2 separate regions of the Homo sapiens genome follow, and region 2 is linked to region 1. The links come from fine-mapping of genetic effects on gene expression. Tissue or cell type: whole blood. Region 1 holds a variant in brackets; the other region holds the start of a gene. All regions are shown on one strand. Distances are from middle to middle.

Region 1 (2,760 bases):
ACTGAGGACAGGTGCTACCAGCGAGTCCTGTGGTTTAAGGACAGTGTTCCTCAGGGCTGTGTAGAAGGGCTCTGCGCTAAAAGCAATTCTGCTAATTACTAAGTATGTGTTGGGCAAGTTAAGTTACTTAACATCTCTGAGTTCACGTTTCTGAGCTGCAAAATGCATTGATGGGGCTTAAACGAGATGACAAAAGTGCCTGCAGCAGCTACCCGATAAATCACAATATCATCACAATTCTGGGTTGACCCTGGTCTCTGCCCCAGGGAGTTCCGAATTCTCACGTCCCAAACTGCAAACTCAGTGTCCTCCAAGAATGTCGCCCTTCTCCTCCCACCTCTAGATGTTTCAGTAACTTCTTTCCTGTTTATTGAGAGATTCATCCCAGTGTCCTCTCATTCCCTTCTGTCCCTCTGGGAATTTCTTCCATCAGTTTTGCTTCCTTTTTCATACCTGTCACCTGAGCTTCCAAATATCGATCTCTCTCCATCCTAAAAATATTTCTGTGCCTCATCCCTGCATGCTCAAAGGTGATCTTCCTTCTCCTCTTTACCATCACAGTTCTCAAAATAATGATTGGCATTTCTTGAATGTTTCTCTCGAAGGCCCTCTGTGAACTCCTAGTGCCAATTCCAGCAATGCCTTGGGGGTCAGCACTTCCTCCTGCCACCTCTGCACCTTCAGCTGTTCTCCATCCTGGAACTTTCCTGACAGCCCCCTGGTCCTCATCTCAAGTCATCTGTAACATTTAATGTGACTGACACTTCCCGCTTTAAAAATCTTTCTCAGTGTCTGGATATTTTAGAATTGCACAAGGCAGTATGAAGGGGTGGAAAGACATGGCATCCGGGATTTACTTTAAATTACTTCAGCAAATAAAAAAGAGAAAAAGAAAGAAAAGGAGGAATAGAAGAAGCAAAAATGATATGGCAAAACCTTGACAATTATTTAATTCAAGATGTTCAGGGTGGGTATATGGGGATTCACTCTTAGTCTCTGTATTTCTACATACAAAGCAATTGACATTTTCCATGTAATTTTTAAAACTATTTTTATTTATTTAGTTAGTCTTTGGAACAACGTCTTGCTCTGTCATCCAGGCTGGAGCACAGTGGTGCAATCACAGCTCACTGAAGCCTGAACCTCCCCAGCTCAAGTATCCTCCCACCTCAGCCTCCCAAGTAGCTGGGACCACAGGGACACGTCACCATGCCTGGCTAATTTTTGAAATTCTTTTTTTTTTTTTTTTTTTTTTTTTGTAGAGACAGGGTTTTGCCATGTTGCCCAGGCTGGTCTCGAACTCTTGAGTTCAAGTGATCCACTCACCTTGGCCTCCCAAAGTGCCAGGATTACAGGCATGAGCCACCATGACCGGCCCCATAATTAGAAATTATTTTTCTTTCCTGGACCTCCTTATGACACATCTCTCCTGGCTCTGCTCCTTTCTGAAACCTCCTATTCCCATCTTTTCCTTCTCTTTCTCTACCTGCTTTGTGAAAAATAAGTGCTTCCCAAGGCCCTTGCT[C/T]GCCTCTGTGTGAAGTGCCAGTGGCCAGTGCCGAGGCCCAGGTGAAACTCCCCAGCCCACTGATTCACCTGAGCCTGCTGTGAAGGTGAGCCAATGCTATAGCTTTAGTCCTGCCCTCTCTACAAACACCAGACCCACGTGTATTTTTAAAAATTTACACATATTTTAAATATGTATATAAATACAGAGAATAAGAAGACAAAATCCCTGACCCACTACCCAGATTTAACCAGTGCTGACATTTTGGTACATTTGCTTCATAGTTTTAGAAATAACAAGTTACAAATATAGCTGAAGGCCCCGACACACCTCTCCCAGACCCCATTCTCTTCTCTTGCTCCCCATAGGAAACCACCGATCTGAACTTGGTATATAGCCCCAGACCATGTTTGTACTTTGACCACAGAGACTGGTGTCTAGAACAATACATAAAATTATTTTTTTTAATCTTCATGACTCTTTAAGTATCTGTAATTTTTTTCACTCAACACTGTGTTTTCCCCATATTGATACACACAGATCCTGTTGGTTCATTCTGAATGCTGCAGAGTAAATACTTTCTCTTATGACACACATCGCAAGTTGTCTGTCCACTTCCCTAAGCAGACGTCTCGGCTGTGTCCCGAGCAAACGGTGCCATGGTGACCTGCCTTTGCAGGTCTCCTGCTGCGCACCTGCGTGAGCATGTCGCTCTCCTCACCTGCCACCGTCCCTGTGACATTTTCTTGTGCTTGTTTGCTTTTCTGACTCCCCCACTCAAATGCAAGCAAAGAAAGTGAGTACTTTCATCTCTATGCTATTAATGCATCATGCCTAGCTCATAGTGGATTAATATGAAGGAGAAAAGGAAGGAAGGAAAGGAAGAAGGAAGGAAGGAAAGGAGGGAGGGAGGCTTTCTATCACCAGGCTCAGGAGCTAAGGACTAGGCAATACGTGGAATTATTTTGTGGAAGTCCAGGTATGACGTTGCAGTGAGGAATCCAAGAGGCATTTTAATAGCAATGTATATGCCTGCAACCAAAGAACATACTCTCAGCAAGCGTTTTACCTCTCAGCAGAAAGATGTGAGCTGCTGCCTGTATTTTGCGCTGCTGCCTGTATTTTGCACTGCTCCTGAAACGGGTCTGATAACAGCTAGTTATAGAATATTTGGTGTCATTTTCCAGATGAAGGGAACTACATGGTCTCAAGCCAGCTAAGACTTGACAGAGAAAAGATAAGACTTTGACAGTAAT
Region 2 (2,624 bases), 120 kb before region 1:
ATCTGTGTCTCCCCACACCCTCAATTTACCCAAATATGAAATTTGCTTAGGACCCATCCACACTTGCCCAGGGTTTAGGAGTCTGTTTAAAACTGCCCCAGGGAATTATTAGGTTCAGCAAAGTTTAGGAAACAGTGATTAGATCCTCCTGCCTTAGGAGCCCAATATAGGGAGGCTTTATAAAAATCCTTGTGCCAAGAGAAACGTTGTAAACTCTAACTCCGCGCTCTCACACTGAAGTCAAAACAAGGTTGTTGTTTTTCTCTCCTATTCACTAAATCCACAACAGCAGGAAAACCCATCTAACTTTGCCAACTGCCTTCCCCTCCCCTCCCTTCCCCCACCAATCTGTGGTGGATTGGGCCCCTTGGCCTCACTTCTACCTTCCCTCAAGGTGGGGAAATCAGAGCGAAAGAGTCCTGGGAGAAATTTTTACAGTCTGCTTTCCTTGGGGCCCACCCCTGGTTGGAAACTGACTTAAGCTTTCATGCTGTGTAATGTGGAAAGATCCAGCAATTAATGGTCATTGCCAGAGGACACCCCTTTGAAAGAAAGAGGCTGCCACTGTATTCCCCTAAAAACTGTGGGACAGGGCTCACGACTACACTCCCCACCATTCTCTGCAGCAGGGGCTCCTGAGACAGAGCTGAACCTTCTCCAAAACGATGTGGGGTGAAGAGCAGGGAGTTGCAACTCCTACCTCCCCTAGGAGTGCTGGCCAGGTTGCCGTGGGAACTGATAAAGCCCCAGTGCAGGGAGAAGCCTCTCAGAGGTGAGAATCACCTGGGGCATTTGGATGAAATGCCAGTCCAGGCCCCTGTGCAGATCCACTAAATCAGAATCTGTAGGGATGGGGCCTGAAAACTGGGTACTTTTAATTCTCGCCCAGTGATTCTGATGTGCAGACAGGGTTGAGAACCAGCGGTTAGCCTAATCAATTCTAAGAGAAAACCTCCATCTCTCCTCCGTCACAGGAACCTGTCACCTCTTAAAACCACAATGAGGTGGAGAGCCAACTAGGGCACACTGAGCGTGGTCACGGGGCGACGAAACCACCACGCACCGTTCCCCAGAAGCACACACTGGCTGGAAAGTTCCAGCTGGAGCCAAAGGTCGCAGTCCAGGTGCTGCATCTTTTTAAAGGAAACACACCCAAAGGCACTAGGACAGAGCCTTAGCTAGCGATTTAGATCCAGCCCTATCTGACGCCGCCAGCAGCACCACGAAGACACTTCCACGAGCACACCCAGCGGGGCGCCGAGGTGCCGCCCAAGAGGCTCCTTGGCGCCGGGGCCGCCTGACGTCAGTGGGACGGCCCTGGGCTTGGGCGCGCCACAGCCCCGCCCCTCGGGCGCCAGTCTCGGTCGCGGGCATTGAGCGGCTGGAGTCTGGCGACTGCCCCACGCCCAGCCGTGGGTCGCTAGACGGCGGGCGCACCCGTCGTTCTGGACACGCTTAGTCGGCCCAGCGAGAGGGCGAAGGAGCCGCGGGCGCGTCCCCGCCAACCCTGCTCGCCCGCGCCGAGGCGGGCCACGTGACAGCCCGGGGCCCCGCGCCCCGCCGCGCCGCCTTACTTGGTGTACTCGCGCAGCCCCTTGGCGAACCACACGACGCTGCGGTACAGGGACATGCCGGGAGCGCCCCACGCCTAGCCCCACCGCGCTCCCGGCGCGGCCTCCGCCCTGGTCCCGCCCCCCGGGAGTCGCCCGCCCTGACATCATCCCGGTTATGTAAGAGCCGCGGCTTCCGGTTCCTTGCTCCACCGGTAAGGCAAGGGGTCTCGGGGCCGGCCGGTCGACTCCGCCCCAGCCTCAGAGGGTGGAGTGAGGGCGGACCGGCCCTGGTGGGGGCCGCAGTCGAGGTCCGCAGTCTCCTCGGGGTCGAAATCGGGCATCAGCGCCGTTTAGAGAACACCGTCCTGCTGGGCATGGCCGGGATGCGAAGATGGCCCTGCAACGCACCTCCTAGAATTTGGTTACCTAGAAAACCATGTGGAATAAAACGACGAGGCTTATGATATTTAAAAGACTTCTGCATCGAATTGGTGTTATCATAAGGGTTATTTTAATAACTGGCATTCTCTAAGTTTCTACACGTGTTGGGGGATGCAGTGCCGTGCCACATTTCCCGTCTCCAGCAAGCGCAGTCAGATTGGCGACATCGCAGGCAAGAGGCAGGGCTGGGGCTCCCACCCGAGAAGTAATTGTCTCCAAAGTTGGACTTTTGCCACTGGTTCTGCGACTTCATGCAATGCCAGGGAGAGCCCCTTGATTTCCCCCAAATCCTCATCAGCCTCTTTCCACCCAAGCCCAGATGAACAGTGTGAGTAAAAAAGAGTGTGGTTGCTGCGTGAACCCAGATCTCAGACTAGTCATCCAGCCCCATTATGTAGGACTCAGACACCCCTGTCCACATCTAACCTCCAGCCCTAACGCCACATTAGAAATGGGGGTCTTACTGCTGCTGTCACTCCTAGTCACCCTGTTAAATTCTATACCGGTTTACCCAAGTCGCCCAGAGACTGGGCCCCACTTACATAAGCTGAAGAGACCAGCTGCTTTAATAGCCTCATTACCTAGGATATAGGATCACTGTCCAACCTCACTCCACAGTGGGCAAGTTTT

Evidence for each region. PIP is the estimated chance that this variant, and not a neighbour inherited with it, causes the effect.
Region 2: it holds the start of DHRS12, and the variant in region 1 is fine-mapped to the expression of DHRS12 in whole blood (TOPMed, PIP above 0.99).

What each region holds. Positions count from the first base shown.
Region 1 is chr13:51,917,571-51,920,330 of GRCh38, forward strand. It overlaps a transcript of TMEM272 not described here. Among named protein-coding and RNA genes, the nearest start is that of CCDC70, 57 kb to the left of the region's middle. The variant C/T (reference allele first, on the strand shown) is at 1,526.
Region 2 is chr13:51,802,480-51,805,103 of GRCh38, forward strand. It overlaps DHRS12 (dehydrogenase/reductase 12), which reads right to left and starts at 1,684. Exons shown (of 9, transcript NM_001377533.1): 1 at 1,575-1,684. LOC107984561 (a long non-coding RNA gene) reads left to right here and starts at 1,357. Exons shown (of 2, transcript XR_007063805.1): 1 at 1,357-2,322. RefSeq lists enhancers at 1-49, 2,435-2,564 and a silencer at 1,245-1,884.